Regions from separate parts of the Homo sapiens genome. Here region 2 is linked to region 1. The links come from fine-mapping of genetic effects on gene expression. Tissue or cell type: prefrontal cortex. Region 1 holds a variant in brackets; the other region holds the start of a gene. All regions are shown on one strand. Distances are between the middles of the regions.

The links. PIP is the estimated chance that this variant, and not a neighbour inherited with it, causes the effect.
Region 2: it holds the start of BMS1, and the variant in region 1 is fine-mapped to the expression of BMS1 in prefrontal cortex (GTEx, PIP 0.94).

What each region holds. Positions count from the first base shown.
Region 1 is chr10:42,752,194-42,754,948 of GRCh38, reverse strand. It overlaps LOC283028 (a long non-coding RNA gene), which reads left to right. Exons shown (of 1, transcript NR_136644.1): 1 at 1-2,755. Among named protein-coding and RNA genes, the nearest start is that of BMS1, 29 kb to the left of the region's middle. The variant C/A (reference allele first, on the strand shown) is at 1,220.
Region 2 is chr10:42,781,185-42,783,939 of GRCh38, reverse strand. It overlaps BMS1 (BMS1 ribosome biogenesis factor), which reads right to left and starts at 1,145. Exons shown (of 23, transcript NM_014753.4): 1 at 1,110-1,145. RefSeq lists an enhancer at 965-1,314.

The DNA of each region.
Region 1 (2,755 bases):
CGCGGTCCGGCCGCGAGAAAGGCAGGCGCTGCCCCAGTGGGGAAGGGGCAAGGCTGCGGCTCCGGCCACCGGGCGGGGGCACAGAAACGACCCCGGCGCCGTCTGAGCGCCCAGCTCCGTTCCTGCCGCGGCCAAAAGACACCCGAGAGCGCCGGCGGCTGGGGGACCACAGGGCCCTGGAACTCACCAGGCGGCCTCGCGGCGCAAAAGCGGGCGGAGCCAGAGAAGGGGCTCGGCTAGGCGGCCACGCTCCCTCCCCGGAGGGCGGCGGGACTCGGATTTCGCCTCTGGTTTAAAAATTGTGCCTGCGGAGCCCAGGACGCTGGGAGGAGCGTTCTGCGCTCCTCCGGTCGCGGTCTCCGCACTAAACCGACTTCCAGAGCCGCCTCTGCTCCCTGTAGTGGCGGAGGGGCGGGCACCGAAGTCCCACCAAGTCGCAGGTCCTCAGCCTGGGGCATGCTTGCTATGCTCCGGATGCAGGGGGGTACTCTGCCTCTCTGCTCCCTGGGGGCCAAGGCGTGCGCTGCAGGCTGGAGCTGCGGCTCCGAGGCTTCCAGGAGCCCCGGCCCCGCCGTCGGTGGAGAAACGCTGGGGGCTTCGAGGTCGCGGCTTCCGGAAATCCGGTTACTGAGCGGAGTTGGGGGTCAGGTTCCAAAGGGATAGCGCCCCGGGTTGTAATCACCATCTGGCCCGCCGCTCCTGCCGCCGCGAGTCTACAGCGGAGCTATTGGGTGGACCAAGCGGGTGAGGCGCGGGCAGGCAGCGGCTCCGCCTCGTAATCCTCCTCCGACCGGTGCCCAGGGGCTGGCCCCACCTTTCCCTCGGTCACCCACCAACGCCGCTCCCTCGATCCCCAGCACCCCTCCAGGCCCAGTTCGCTTCAGAGGCGCGAGACCCGGAAAACAAGGAAGAAGCGAGCTCAGCCTCAATCCCCGTCCCCACCCCACTTTCGGGGCCGCTGCGCTGGAGAATTGAAGGGGGCGGACCCCGGATTAAAGCCGCTCCCTTCCCAGCCTCGCTCCTCTTTCCTTCTGTCCGTGATGATTTCTTTATTGTCAGGCGAGAGCCAGGCTCCCCGCGCTCACGGGACCGGGCGGTTGGGAGCGGGTTCTGGAGCTCACGCCTGGCGTCGGCGGAGGTGACCCCAGCGCCCTCGCCCGTGCAGGGGAAACAGCTGGTTCCCGCCCGGATGGGGAAACCTGGACTGCGTGGGCTCGGG[C/A]GCCTGGCAGGCATGCGGGGCCTCTAAGGCTTGGCCACTGTCACGGGTCCTGTGGTTGTTGCTTCTCCCCTCGCCACGCCCTTCTCCTGGGACGGAGATTCATTCCCTGGCGGGTGTCGGGGACCTGGGCGCAGATTCATTCCCTGGTGGGTGTCGGGGACCTGGCGCTCTTGCAGGGACGCCCCCCGGAGTCTGATACGTGGACTTTAAGATCAGACGCTTCGGGGCCGGGCTGGGAAAAACTGGCGGAAAATATTACAACTCTACTCTCAATGCCAGGCTGTTGTAGAAGCTCCTGGGACAAGCCGTGAAGTCTCCGCAGGAGGCTTCAGAGATATACTAGGCGGCTGCTCAGTTCGCCAAGGACTTTTCCATTGACTCACAAGCGCCGCCTGGAGGAGGAGGCCGCGCTGGACGCGCCGGCGGCGCCTTTGCCTGGGGGAGCGCAGCCCGGAGCTGTGGCGTGGCCGCGCTGGGAGCGGCGTGTCAGAGGCTGGGCCTGGGGACCCGAGGTTGGGCGGGGCGCAGGAGGTGGGCTCAGGGCTCTCCAGAGCACTCCCCTGAGCTGACCCGCAGGACTGCCGGGCCAGTAGGCACGGGGCCCGCGCGGTGACCTGCGGCCTCGAGGCTGGAGCAGCCACTGCAAACGCCGCGCTGGCCCCAAACACTGCGTCCTTGAAATGTTTTAATTAAGAATAATTAATAGGGCCGGGAGTGGAGGCTCAAGCCTGAATCCCCAGCACCTGGCGAGGCCGAGGAGGGAGGATCCCTTGAGCCCAGAGGTTCAAGACTAGCCTGGGCAACACAGTCAGACTCCATCCCTACAAAACAAACAAACGAAAATAAAACAAACGAAACGAAATGAAATTAGCCCGGCGTGGTGGCGCGGGCCTGTGGTCCCAGCTCCTCGGGAGGCTGAAGCAGGAAGATGGCTTGCGACCGCACCACTGCGCTCCAGCCTGGGAGACAGAGCAAGACCCTGTCTCGAAAAATGTGTATGTCTGGGTAAATGTATAGATTTTAAAACTATTTTGAAGGCGGCCTTTTTAACTCTAAACTGACCACTCTGGAGGAGACGCCTGACCCAGAGCGCTTTCCCTAAAGTTCGGTGCCCAAAGTGCACCTTCCCATGGTTGGGGTCTCTGCCTTTCGCCAAGCCTTGCCTCTTGCAGAGGTGGGCTCCATAGTGTCTCCCGCTCCGCCCCAACTGGAGAACAGTGTAAATTGTCGGCCGGGCGCGGGACCTCATGCCTGTAATACCAGCACTTTGGGTGGCTGAGGCGGGCAGATCGCTTGAGGTCAGGAGGTCGACACCAACCTGCCTAAACATGGTGAAACCCCGTCTCTACTAAAACTACAAAAATTAGCCGGGCGTGGTGGCGGGCGCCTGTAATCCCAGCTACTCAGGAGTCTGAGGCAGCAGAATTGCTTGAATCCGGGAGGCGGAGGTTGTAGTGAGCCGAGATCGCGCCACCGCACTCCAGCCTGGGCAACAAGAGTGAGACCGCGTCTTAAAAAAAAAAAAAAAAAAAAAAG
Region 2 (2,755 bases), 29 kb before region 1:
CAGCTCAGACCCAGGTATCAACTGGACTGATGAAGTGGTTTCCTAACTTAAACTAAAACTTAAATTTTAATAAAAAAATGTGAAACGTTTTTATGAACCTCCAATATGATCGCAGTATTACTTTTAGTACCTGTTGACTCTGTAAAACTCCTAAATTACAACTTATCTACATACATTTGAAAAATAGAAATAGCTGTACGTGTGAGATAGGACTGGTTCTAGATGACACCTGGAGACCCCATGAACTTACAGAGACCCTTCCAGTGATTTCTGAGTTACCTGGGAATCTGTGGCTAATAAATTGGCAATCACTGAATTAGTGAGTTATTTTAGGAAATCGGGCTGCATAAAATCTGACAGCTTGATTAAAAAAAAAAAGCGGAGCAGGATGCCATTTCATTCAATTAAGGTACTGTATTCATTCCGTTGAATAAATATTTGTGTCTGTCTACGATGTGCTAGGCACTGTGCCAGTAAGTGGATACAGCTATTATCTGACTTGCAGAGGAAATCCAAACTATTATCTTCCGCGCCACGCAATAAGGGCGACATTGGAAGGCTGCACAGGGTGCTACTGGAGCACGGAGGTGAGTCAGAGGCTTCCCACAGACACACACCAGCGGAAACAAAGTCTTTATGTATTACCATAATGTCAAGAACACTGGCCAGGAGTTAGGAGAGCTGGGCGCTAGGAACGCTTTGAAACCGAATAGCTGTGTGATTTCAGAGATTATGTTTCTTCTCTGCTATATTTTAGTTCAGCACTTGTACTAATGTTTCTCTCCCTGTCTTTCTTCTTGGTGGGAAAAGCACAATTTGGGGTCAACAGATCCAGCTCAGGTCTAAGTCTCCTACCGGGACCACGTCGCCAGGAAACGACGTCGCCCAGCCACCTTCCCTCCCCGTCTGGGCTCTCTGCAGGGATTCATCACGTCACTCACCCAACTACCCCAGGACACCTCCGCCAGATGAGAAATATGCCGCTCCTCGGGAGCAAAGATGACCCGGAGGACCGGGGGAGGACCTTCCCACACGCACGACTCGCGATCTTCCCAGTGCCCCAGAACCAGGGACCCCACCGCCGCCTACCCCAACCCGCAGCACCGAACCTGCTCGCAGCCGCGACTCCTCAGGTCAGCATGGACACCGCCGGAAACGGAAATTCACAGTCGCGCTGACTCGCCGGAGGGAAACAAGAAGGCAGAAAAAAGAGACCGGCATGGGGACGGCTTTCAGGGGAGAGCCTGAAGAAAGAGGGCTGAACAGCTGAGTGCGGACGCAGGCGCCGTCCGCGCAGTGCGTTCCACCGGGTCCAGGTCCTTCCAGATTCCTCTCCACCCCGCCCTCGGAATCCGCGGCCTCAACTTCCGCGGTGGGACTCCGGAGCAGCGTGCGCCGCGCTCGCCTGAGTTCTCGCCGAAGGCCAGGGCGGCTCTGCGGCCTGGCGCCGGTTAGTTAGTGTGGTGCAAAAGCCGGAAGGAGACACATTTGGTCCTGGCCTCCCGGCAGTCACCGTGCCAAGGACGAATGGACTATCGCTTGATTTGGAGTACACTTCCTCCTCTTTAAAGATTACAGATGAGGGGGATCTCGCGTTCTGGGGTGCCCTAAAGCCCTCTTTTGGCAGGGCGCAGTGGCTCACGCCTGTAATCCCTACACTTTGGGAAGCCGAGGAGGGAGGATTGCTTGAGCCCAGGAATTCAAGACAAGCCTGGGCAACATAGGGAGCCTACCTCTCTCTCTTAAAAAAAAAAAAAAAAAAAATTAGCCGGCATCGTGCCGGGCGCCTGTGGTGCTTGTGGTCCCAGCTACTCTGGAGGCTGAGGTGGGAGGATCGCTTGATCCCAGGAGGCGGAGTCTGCAGTGAACTGAGATGAGCCACTGGACTTCAGCCTGGGCAACAGAGCAAGACACTGTCTCTAAGAAAAATAAATAACATAAGGCCCTCTTTTGCCAGGACCAACAAACCGTGAGGGCAGGGACAAACTGACCCAGCCTAAACTGCCTCGCCCTCCCTAAACCCGGGAAAGGGGCTTTACCTGAGTGAACGTAGCATCTTGCCGTTTTCTTACTGCACAGCTTTACCTTCCCAGGGATCCGCCCATTGCCACCTGAGGAAATGCCTTGGAGTCCATCTAATCCCCAGCCCAGCTACTTGGGAGCCTACAGAGCGTACATTGTCAGAGGATGCATCTTCCTTTAGTCTTGGAGGGTTTCTTTTCAATATGATCCCGCTGGTGCATTCAAGGCTCAATTCTACACCAAAAACTAGGCCCACTCCTGTCACGAGAACCCCAGGCGTCAGGTCTTCTCACAGGCACCTTGTTCTTGCCCTCAGCAGCCCCCAGGTATTCACTCTGCATATTCTAGATACTGGGTGCTGGACTTGGGAGGCTACCCACGTGGCACATGCTTCCCTTATCCCTGAAGAGCTTAGAGTGTTGTAACTTCTTCACACTACACCTCTTACTTCTTGAAGATTTCAGTATCCAGGTAGATAATCCTTCCAACATCCTTTTGGTCTCATGAAGCCCACTCCTGTCCTCTGCCCTACCTCAGCTTCCCCCTCCCTCCATGATCAGACCTTAGACCTTGTCAGGTCCAAGGACTGCAACCCCCACAGTATCCCACTCTGACCAGGTCTATCTATCCTCCTATCTGTCCAGGTCACTCCCTATACTGCCCTGAAACAAAACTCCTGCAACCTTACCAGCACCTCCAATCAAGATCTTACTACTTGTTCACTGTTTCTTCC